Homo sapiens: one gene and its partner. The protein of the gene in region 1 purifies or fractionates together with the protein of each later gene. This does not show direct contact. Each region holds a gene or a part of one and is shown in the gene's direction. Other genes may lie near its edges. The genes, in order: NUBP2 and QPCT.

The links.
Region 2: the proteins of NUBP2 (region 1) and QPCT purify together in Homo sapiens (affinity purification with mass spectrometry; 3 studies listed by BioGRID and IntAct, with this or other methods). This does not show direct contact.

Annotation. Positions count from the first base shown.
Region 1 is NC_000016.10:1,785,947-1,789,964, forward strand, and holds the end of NUBP2 (cytosolic Fe-S cluster assembly factor NUBP2), read left to right. Parts: intron 1-590; coding exon 591-709; intron 710-810; coding exon 811-1,009; intron 1,010-1,730; coding exon 1,731-1,885; intron 1,886-1,994; coding exon 1,995-2,105; intron 2,106-2,191; coding exon 2,192-2,261; intron 2,262-2,622; coding exon 2,623-2,768; coding exon of another isoform or gene 2,769-3,067; 3' UTR 3,068-3,240; downstream 3,241-4,018. UniProt on the Homo sapiens protein: Component of the cytosolic iron-sulfur (Fe/S) protein assembly (CIA) machinery. Required for maturation of extramitochondrial Fe-S proteins.
Region 2 is NC_000002.12:37,361,339-37,368,629, forward strand, and holds part of QPCT (glutaminyl-peptide cyclotransferase precursor), read left to right. Parts: intron 1-5,893; coding exon 5,894-6,070; intron 6,071-7,291. UniProt on the Homo sapiens protein: Responsible for the biosynthesis of pyroglutamyl peptides. Has a bias against acidic and tryptophan residues adjacent to the N-terminal glutaminyl residue and a lack of importance of chain length after the second residue.

The DNA of each region.
Region 1 (4,018 bases):
CCTGCCGTGTGGCAGGGACAGGATGGGACCCTGGAAGGAAGAGGAGCTGGAGCTGTGCTGGAAGCAGCCGGCTCCCCTCACTTACCGCACATTGCAGGGACCGAGAGCCGGGGACGCTGGTGTGTGACAACGCGTGGTTGTTGCCACCCACCCTGGGCCCTCTGCTGCCTCTGCCGAGCCCAGGTGCACTGGCTGGGGAAAGAGTGGAGTCTGGTTCCCGTTAGAAATAGCAGGGGGCTGGCAGTTTCATGATCATGTGACCCACGTGTGTGTTTGCACACGCGCACGAAGGAACGCATGCACCCTTCCACACAGCGAGAGGAGTTGGGCAGTTTCCACTCTCAGCAGCGCCGCCTCAGGCAGGTGCAGGGAGTGCCGTGGTCTTAGAGGGTCCCCCCGGGTCTGGGGCTGCAGGGGACCTGCCTGGAGGTCTTTACATCGGGGCGAAGTGGGGCACGGGCTGCCTCTGGGTCTGGCGATTCACCACTGCCCCGCTCAGAACGTGGGTGCAAGAGGCAGTGGGTGACCCCGCGTGTGTGGGCACAGTGGGCACCAGGAGCCCTGACCTTCTCTGTCGTGTTTCCGCCCAGAGCCTGGAAACCTGGCCGGCGTCAGGCACATCATCCTGGTCCTCTCAGGAAAGGGGGGCGTTGGGAAAAGCACCATCTCCACGGAGCTGGCCCTGGCACTGCGCCATGCAGGCAAGAAGGTGAGCGCCCTACCCCTCACTGGGCGGAGCCCCGGGCAGCTGCCCGCATCCCGGTGGAGGCCTGGCGGTGCCCCCGGCCTAGGCTGTGCCGCTCCTTGCAGGTGGGAATCCTGGATGTGGACCTGTGTGGCCCCAGTATCCCCCGCATGCTCGGGGCGCAGGGCAGGGCTGTGCACCAGTGCGACCGCGGCTGGGCACCCGTCTTCCTGGACCGGGAGCAGAGCATCTCGCTCATGTCTGTGGGCTTCCTGCTGGAGAAGCCGGACGAGGCCGTGGTGTGGAGAGGCCCCAAGAAAAACGGTAACGGCCGGGCGGCGCGTCCGCCGTCCTGGTGAAGGGGGTTAGCGTCCGTGCCGGCCTCTCCTGTGGAAATGTTCCTCTTCAGCAGCCAGGCCTGTTCCTGGGGACCTGCACATGACACCCACGACCAGGCACAGGGCTCAGGCTGGCGGTGTGTCTCCAGTTGGGTCCGTGCTGCCACACAGCTGTCCCCAACTCCCGGTCAGAGGGAGTGGGGTCTGCTGAGACCCTGGCCATGGCATGCAGGGACCTGAGGCCCCAGTGTGGCAGGTCATAGGGGCAGAGCTGAGGGGGTTCTGGTGCCTCTGGAGCAGGTGGCATTAGACGCCCCCAAAGGCAGGGAGAGGCTGGTGGGAGTGAGGCGCAGGCTGTGGGTGCACCAGTGGGGCATCCACCACGGAGAATGTGGGTGCTCCCATGTGTGGGTACAGACGCCTGGAGGGTCCTGGCTCCGTGTTCTGATTTGGGGCCTCGGGGAGTCAGCGGGGGCTCTGTGGGCAGGGGCCAGACACTGCAGAAAGGGACGCTGTAATGGCCCCGGCCCCATCTTTGCACTCCTGCAGCGGGCCAGGGCCTCCCGAGAGCCTGTGATGGAGGCTGGTGGCAAGTGACACCTGATGGACTGCAGCCCCTCGGCCTGACCTGGCTGGTTCTTAGTGGCGCAGGGCCACGTGTGCAGACCTGCCCTGCCCTGACCGCCCCGTCTGCCCCGTCTTTGCAGCGCTGATAAAGCAGTTTGTGTCCGACGTGGCCTGGGGGGAGCTGGACTACCTGGTGGTGGACACGCCCCCGGGGACCTCCGATGAGCACATGGCCACCATAGAAGCCCTGCGTCCCTACCAGCCCCTGGGGGCCCTCGTGGTCACCACGCCCCAGGTAGCGCTGCGGCACCTTCCCGAGTCCCTGTGGGTGGCTTCCCAGAGGGCTGGGCGGGTGTCCCTGCTGGTGCGCCTGGCTGACCGTGGCCTCGGCTCCTGCCCCGCAGGCGGTGTCCGTGGGGGACGTGAGGCGCGAGCTGACCTTCTGTAGGAAGACGGGCTTGCGGGTGATGGGAATCGTGGAGAATATGAGCGGCTTCACCTGCCCACACTGCACGGTGAGTCCCGGGGGTTGCAGAGGGGGCGAGGCAGCACCTGGCCGGTGGGGGCTTTGGGCAGTGCTGGGCTCACCACCGTCTCCTAGGAGTGCACCAGCGTCTTCTCCAGGGGCGGCGGAGAGGAGCTGGCCCAGCTCGCCGGGGTGCCCTTCTTAGGTGAGTGTCCCAAGCTGGTGCTGGGGTCGCGGCCTCCCATTCCATCTCTGCCCTGGGCGGGTTTGACCTCCATGCCCCCAGTGCCCAAGGGAGAGGAGGGGACGGGAGCGGTTTCCTCCTCTCTTCTCGGGCCACACGCCATGCCGCTGAGACCTGCAGGTCATTCGCCCGCGCCCTTCTCAGGGCCCTCTCGGGTGGCAGGACCCAGCCTGCTGGGAGGGCCGCGGGTCTGGAGGTGGAAATCGTCTGGCAGCGCCTCAATCCCCTCTAAGGCCACGGGTGGTTCGGGTGCGTCCAGCTGAGCCAATGGTGGGAGTGGAAGGTGCGGACATGGCGCCACCGCCTCCACTGTGCCCTGCAGGCTCCGTGCCCCTGGACCCTGCGCTCATGAGGACCCTGGAGGAGGGCCACGACTTCATCCAGGAGTTCCCTGGGAGCCCCGCCTTCGCTGCACTCACCTCCATAGCCCAGAAGATTCTGGACGCGACGCCCGCGTGCCTCCCCTGACTAAGGCCACCTTGCAGCCGCTTTCCAGGGCCACCAAGGGCTCTGCTCCAGCCTCTCAGAGAAACAGAGGCCTGGGCTCGGTTCCCGGGCCCTGCAGGGGCAGGCCCAGGCAGCGTCAGCCGGAGAGCTTCTCCCCGACCAGCCCAGCCCCAGGATGTGTCGCACCAGCAGCTCTGCCTGGTTGGCCTGCAGTGCCGTGGTCTGCGTGCTCTGCAGCTGTGAGACGGGGGCGGCCTGGGCTCTCTTCCCATCCATGTTGCCTACCTGTGCCCCTGGCAGCCGCGTGTCCACACAGTTAGCGGAGCGCGGGACTTCTGCAGTCCTCAGGTGACCCCGGGCCTCCAGCACCCTGGGTCGCTGTCATCTGTGTTTAGCTCGGGGAGTGCCCCCTAAGGGGGCGAACTGACCTCAGGCATGTTTTGTAACTGTAGAGGCGCCTGCCATTAAACGTGTCCGCTGCTGTGGCGACAGATCTGATGTTTCTAGAGTCTTCTGTCCTTCGGGGTCAGACAGCACCTGCTTCTGTAAGTTTCTGGGCTGGACTGGGCCAGGCCGGCAGGTTCGTTCGTTCCGTTGTCAACAAGCCCCTGGGCCCAGGTGCTGATGTGTTTGCATCTTATTTGGTGGGAATTCGGGGAGATTTTGTGATAAACCTGACAGCTGGCCCCTTCGCCGTGGAAGAATGGCCTCCCTGGGACACTAAAGGGGCCCCTCCCGGGACAGAGACCAGAAGTCAGGTTGAGAAGGGAGCTCCAATCCCAGGGGTCCCCTGCACCTCTTCCCAGTGAGACCCGAAAGGAAAGCCCTTCCAGAAAGCAGAACGCGCCATTTTTCCCAAAGGAAGAGCTCAGCCTTCAGCAGGGGAGGACCCTGGAGGTGGGGGCCCGGAACCAACCCGGGCGGCCTCTGGGTGGGTGAGAGGGCACCAGGAGCACCTGGGCTGACGATGCCGGTGCCTGGGGGGGGCAGAGACAAACGCCCACGGCATCTGCAGGGGGTGCGGCTTCCCACGCAAGGCGGACGGCCCGCCCCGCGCTCCCTCCTCACCCCACCTCAGCCGCGCCCTGGCTGCCTGGACCACACCCCTCGGGGACACTGCCTGGTCCTCAGGGCGATCCCTCAAAGAGGAGGGGTGAGACGCAGAGCCCCTGGGGATTCGAGTTGGTGCCATCATTCCTGGAGGATGTTCTGGGGAGCCCGAGGGGCAGCCACGGGGACCAGGAAGACACATGGGTGTGGGGCAGTTGGCC
Region 2 (7,291 bases), on another chromosome or scaffold:
AGCTCCACTTCTCTCCAGTAATAGGACTGTCATTACACATCCACATCCTTTGCCTGGTAACTTTGCTGTGCCCTCCCACTGTAGCCAGTTGTACTTCCTCATCCCTTCACTCTGGACTTCATTATTTGACTTGCCTTAGCCAATGGGATGTTAGTAGAGGTGACACAAACAGGGGCTGGAAGTGTGCTTGTGCCATTGGGCTTGCTCTTCCGTGTCTTTGCCATAACCATGAGAATGGCATGCCCTGGCTAGCCTGCCAGTCCCAGCAGAAGGATGAGACACCTGGAGCAGAACCAACCTTGCTGACTGCACAGTGAAGCAGAGCTGCCCCAGCCAAACCCATTCTAGATCAGCTGCTCCCTAGCTGACCAGCAGAGGTTATGTATCCCAAGAAGATACATAATGGTATTTTAAGCCACTGTGTTGATGGGGTGTTATTCTATTCTATTATTGCAACATTAGCTAACTGATACAGCCTTGAATGGGGAAGGACTGCAGATAACCCAGACTGTGTGAACGCTGGTAATTAGGCATTTGTAGTGTTACCATGAAGACCTTCATACATCAGGCCAGTCAGATTCTCCTAGCTCCAAGGTACTAGGCTGAGTTACTAGTAACGAAGGCCATGGCTATTTTTCTGCCATTCCTGAAATGAAGCAAAAAGAGCAGGTTGCCTCATGGGACTCAGGATGAATGTCCACAACAGTTTATTGCTGGCTAAATGAATGGATATTAGGCGAACAGAATGAAAGCAAATCGTTGTACTGATCATTGGAGTCTCCCAGCTGTTGAAGTTTCACTGAGGTACTTGAACTGTCAAGCCTGCAAGAGATAAAAACTATTTCCGTTTGCCTATGCCCTGGGCATGAGCAGAATGCCTCTTGTCCCAACCGGTCCCGTTCTGCCCTCTTGTTCTGCGATTATGTTGTCTGATTTGAAGCTAGAACTTTCAAGGCCCTTTAAACAACTGGAAGCTTAGAATGTCTCTACTGAAGCAAGCACCTTACAATTTTTGCCAACGAGAAAATCTGTTTAATTATTTAATGCTTATTAAACCCTGAGTGCATTTATATTGCACAAACACATCCTCTGCTTAATGCTCTCCAGGAGTTATGGAGGATTCAAATCAAATTACACTGTCCTTTCCTCATGGTATAATTAAGGAGCAATATGAAATGATTAGCGTACAAAATTAAGTTAGTTTTCAGATGATAAAGACAATTTTTTTCTCTTTTGAAATCACCGTTAAAACAATCAGGGAAACTCCATTTTTTGAAGAAAGTAGAGAACATCTGTGAATAGGAACCACAATATGAAGACAGAAGTTGGATGGAGAAATGGCAGATGACATATCAGAGTGGAGAGAAGTCACACTGTCCTGGAGAGGGAAGAAATGGAAGAAGCCAGTGGTTTCCTTGATAGAATCCTAAAAAGGCTCAGGAATTAGAGATGTGATAAGCTGAGGAAGGCAGAGGTGAGGAAGGGGCTGGTGTGGAGAGTGTTTCTAAGTCTGTCTAAGGAATATGTGGATGTAGAGATTCCCACCCCACACCAGGCAGGTAAGTGAGTGCCCCCTTGTGCCTTTGCCACAGATGAGAAAATATTTTTCTGGAGAAATTGAACCAGGGAGGTTATGGAATTGAGAATAGCAAGTATACAGGAGGGTGACAGTGGGGCACCCCATGGAAATCGGGGAGATTAGGCGAAAGCCTACACATTGAACAGTGAGATCTATAGTTTCTCTCCCATCTTCAGCACCAGAAAGCCATCAGATAGGAAACTGGAGGATTCTTCTTCAGACCGTGTGAACCACCCCGCAGAAAAATCCCAGATGGTGACATTCAGTAATCCTCAGTGAAAACACTGGCTGGGCACCAGATTGCCTTGCAGTGAAGCCAACCAATCTGTGTCTCCAACCAGCATTTTAATATCTTATTCTTTAACATGAATGAACACAAAGGATGACCAGACATTTGAGGACAGACTCCAGCATGAAAGAAAGGGCCTGGAGCAGTGGCTCATGTCTGTAATCCTAGCACTTTGGGAGGCCGAGGTGGGAGGATTGCTTGAGGCCAAGAGTTTGAGACCAGCCTGGGCAACATAGTGAGGCTCCCTCTCTACAAAAAAAAAAAAAAAAAAAAAATTAGCTGGTTATGGTGGTACACACCTGTAATCCTAGCTACTTGGGAGGCTGAGGCAGGAGGATTGCTTGAGCCCAGGAGTTCAAGGCTGCAATGCACTATAATTGAGCCACTGCACTCCAGCCTGGGCAACAGAGTGAGACCCTGTCTCTTAAATAAATAAATACTTTTTTAAAATGTAAAAAAAAAAAAAAAAAAAAATAGAAAGCAAAACAAATCATACAAATTTAAAATGAAGTGGGAGGAAATAGAGCAGAAAATGACTTAAAGGACACTGTTCTAATATTCTTACAGAGATAAGAGGAGACATTATATCTATGAAACAAAACCAGAATGCTGCAATAACAGAACAATTGGTCAATAAGGAGGAGCTTTTGGAAATTAAAATTTCTATTTTCAAAATAAATAAATCAATAAAACAGTTGGATCCTAAAGTAGAAGAAGTATCTTTTTTTAGAAGAGGAATGACAAAAAGGAGACGATTATGACTTTTGGAGAATAATTGTAACAATTCCAGTTAGGTCATATAAAAAGTATTGGGAATGAGAATGGCACTGGACTTCTCAATAGAAACTTTGGGAGCTAGAAAACAATGAAATTATGCCTTAAATATTTTAAATAAAAATAATTTGCAACCCAGAATCTTCAGACCCAGAAAAATTAAATAGGAAAATAGAATGAAGACATTTTCAGAGGTAAATCTCAACAATTTTCACTCCCATGTACTGTATTTTTGCCCTAGAAGTTGCTTAAAGCTGTGCTCCAGAAAAATCAAGAAAGAAATCAAGGATGAGGGAGTCATGGAGTTCAGCTCACTGGGGGTCCCATATAGGAGAGGCAGAAATCTGCAGGTTGATGGTGAGGGGAGCCCCAAGATAACAAACAGATAGGCAGCAGGCCTAGTGGTCGGTCCAGGCTGGAGCAGGCAGCAGAGGGCTCCGGAAGGGCCCATTCTTAAAAAACAAAACCAGACAGACATGAGAAATAAAGGTGTGATAGTGTCTGGAACGCTTGACCACATAATGGTGAAGACATATTAGGCTCAAAGAAAACAAAGCAAATGAAAGAGAGGCCTGTGGTGAGGAATGGTGGGAAACAGGTTTGCAGAGGCAGGACGAACTGGATTGCGATGTTTGTGTACATGGAAAAGGACAGAAAGAGACAGATCCCCACTGGTTTTTGGTCTGAGTAACTGCAAGGGGGGTTTTGCCATCCATTTGGTTGAAGAGACTGTTGGTAATACAGATTTCCGGGGGAACCTCAGGAGATGAGTTTTGACACTTTGTTCGAGGTGTCTATTAACGTCTATGTGGAGATCTTCATTTGGCAACTGAAATTGTAGTCTGGAGATCGGCAGTGAAGTCAGGGCTGGAGATATATTTTTTGGAATTGATATTTACATGTATGTGTGTGTTGTGTTGTGTGTGTGTATTATTATAATATAATACAATATAATATAACATATAATATGTATATATAGAGAGACCAGCCTGGGCAACATACTAAGGCTCCGCCTCTACAATATTATTATTATTATTATTATTTTAAAATAATTATATTAAAAATTTTATATATATAACAATACACACACAACACAGCACACACACACACACACACAAGACAACACACACATACCCACACATATATGATTTAAAGCCTCAAGAAGAGATATCAAGACAGTGAGTGAGTGTGGACAGAGAAGAGAAGAGAACCATGGAGCAAGCCCCTGAGGCTCTCTAGTGTGAAGAGGGAAGGGAGATGAAGGGAGCCATTAGTGCTAAGGTAGGAGGAATATGGTATCTTAGGAACCAAATGAAGCAAGTGTAGCCAGGAGGGAGTAATTAACTGTGTTGAATGCTGACAATAAGTCAAGAGAGATGAAGACTGAGAGTTGACCACTGGATGTAGCCATGTAGAGTCATTGGTGTCTTGACAAGAGCAGTTTCAGTACACGGTGGAGATAAAACCCAACTGGGCTAAGTTTAAGAAGTGGGATTGGAGACAGCGTGAATAGACAACTCCTTCAAGGGGTTTTGCTATAAATGGGATTACAAAATTGGGCAGTAGATGGTGGAGATAGTGAGGTCAAATATTTTAAGATGAGAAAAGCAACAGCATGTTTGTTGGCCGATGGGAATTATCCAGCAGAGATAGAAAAATTGATGATGTAGGAGAGAAATGGTATTTGCTAGAGCAATGTCCTTGAGCAGATGAGAGAGGATAGGATTTTGTGCATAAGCAGGGAGACTGGCATCTGATATGAGCATGACAGAAAGAAATCAAGGTCATCGGTTGGGAATGAAGATGGGTGAGGTGGCAGGGAGAGGAGGAATGTGAAATCCTAGAAGAGTGCCAGAGTGACTGAACTAAGAAAATACAAATGACTTGCCAGTCAACATGAAAGGCCAATGTGAGGTTTGTGGTCATGAACTTTAAGCAAGGCCAGACAGTGTGGTTATATATTTTTTTCTCTGGTGAGGTTTAGCTGCACGAGTGCTGGCACAAAGTAGGTAGAGTATGTTTTTGCCATGAAAGTTTGACAAAGGCAGAAAGGGGCAAGGGAGTTGAGGGTGTATGCTAGTGAGTGATTGGCATGATTGACTGGAATTTAAGCCAAATATAGAGTGAAGTGAGGACATTATGGGGGTGAAGGACCATGAAAAGGTGAAACATTCAGTAGATTAGGGGTTCCAGTGGGATTGAAGGACTTTGGAGTTTAGAGTACCAGGACCAATCTGAAAGACAGGGGTTATTGTCAGACGGAGGAAAGTGTAAAATCAGTTAGAATCCTAGTCACTCTTTTTAGTTCCATTCAAATACTGTCTTTTTCATAAAGCCCTCCTTGACACCCCCAGGATTTTGCTTCTCATTCTATCCAATTTCTAGAGGACTTTAATGTTACATTTGTGGCTGGTGGCACATTTTGCCATGCTTATGTATTTGTTTTATCTCTCCCCAACCCAACTAAAGTATAGGCTATTTCAAGGGAAGGGCTATAATTATTATTCTTCGTGTCTGTAGCATTCCTAGGGCAGACTCTTGAAGCTAGACTCAGTACAAAATTGAAGATGTAAATAAGGTGAGAAGCAAGAAAGATTTACAGTTGTTTCAGGTTGGATTCCCCAAGAAGCGCCCTCTGACATGGAGTTTAGTATTCAGGTCACTTATTAGGGAGTGGCCTTGGATCAACACAGGTATCAGGGAGGGGAAAGAAATGGTGTTGGACGGAGGAAGAAGTCGAGCTGCAGTGCAGGTTCAACAACGGCCTCAGCCAACCCCTGCGGAGCTCTGGAGATATGATGGCTCTTTAGAGAGCCCCCCGTACCCGTGTAGGTCAGCACTGGATGTGGGACACTCCCAGGAGGTGCAGCTGAGGCAATTCCTAAAGTGACTGACGGCTCTTCCAGCAGCTGAGGCAACACACCCTCCTGTATGGGAAGTGGGTGGTGTATCACACGATTCATCACAGCACTTTCATTGTTTCAAAATTCTGTGAGGAGTAAGAAAAAATATAAAAGACTTCTATTTTCAGAGGGAATGGAAGAAGGTGGTTTATATGGGTGAAGACTGTGGGAGGTGTGATGACTTTTGAAGAGGAAGTGGTGTGGAATAAATTTTGCCATAGTTTCACTTGCTTTGGTATCTTCCTTTCTTTATGGCACATCTATCTTTTTGCCCAATTAATAGAAAATCATGCTATTTTTCATCATCACAGTATTTTTTTGCTATGTTTTTATTGTTGTTTTTACCAGACTGTTTCAGACTCCAAGCCAGATTTGTCACTCCAGCTGATCTTCTTTGATGGTGAAGAGGCTTTTCTTCACTGGTCTCCTCAAGATTCTCTCTATGGGTCTCGACACTTAGCTGCAAAGATGGCATCGACCCCGCACCCACCTGGAGCGAGAGGCACCAGCCAACTGCATGGCATGGTTAGTCTGGGCAATTTCCCTAGCACTGTAGCTGTAGGCTCCGCTTCCAAGGAAAAGGTTGCAAAAGCCAAGTAAAGACCTAAAAATGCCACAGCATCCTTGGAGCACAGTGTTTATGATAGAACATTCCTTGGCAGGCATTGGGTTTTTGAGGAATCCCAGAGCTAAAAAGAATGATTCTGAGCTGGCTCTGTGGCTCATACCTGTAATCCCAGCATTTTGGGAGGTTGAGGTGGGAGGATCACTTGAGCCCAGGAGTTCGAGACCAGACTGGGCAACATAAGGGGACTTCGTCTCTACAACAAATAAAATAATTAGCTGGGTGTTGTGTATGCCTGTAATCTTAGCTACTCAAGAGGCTAAGGCAGGAGGATTGTTTGAGCCCAGGAGTTCGAGGCTGCCGTGAGCTATGATTGCTCCATTGCACTCCAGCCTGGGTGACAGAGGGAGACTCTGTTAAAAAAGAAAGAAAGAAAGAAAAATTGCTGGTTAGAAGCCATGTTTGACTGAGCTTAATTAAAATGATAAAATCATGTAAAAAATTGGATTACAGGAACTTCAGATTCAGTTGGGCCCAATGGGAGCACATTCCCCCAGTACTGTATGGAGGTGGAGAGAGCAAACCCCTTCTTTCAGGCCTTTATAAGTCTGAAGAACATGGGGCTTTGGGAAATGGAATAAAAGAGGGGTGAGGGTGAAGAATTTCCTTGGTGGCTTCAAAGTATTACCGTGACTCCAGTGTGACTATGACAGTTTGATGTGTTGGTTTTGATGTGGCATTTTTGACATGGGGGTGGGGATATTTTGATGCTGCCTTAAAACCCTGCTATTATTACTAAGTAATGAGTGCAACACACAGCCTCATTTTCATCCCCATTCCTGGGCCCACACTCCATCCCTAATCCCTCCCCCGACCCCTGCATCTTCTCCTGACTCTGACTCTCTTCCCATATTTGATCTTCTTTCTGTCCCCACGTCTTCACTAACCCCAGCTTGGAACCTCATGCTACCCTTGAGACTTCACTAGCCCCGGTGCCTTCATCCCTCCCTGACGCTCACCCCATCTGTGAACTGATAGCTTATTCCCAGCACCCCCGCTTATTCCTATCCATTGCCCTATCACTGACCTTCGCCCTATAAAAGTACAAATGGTCACATTCTGTGTCCTCTGTGACCCTAACACACCTCCTGTTGGCATTTGCTCTCCCTCCTGTTATCCAT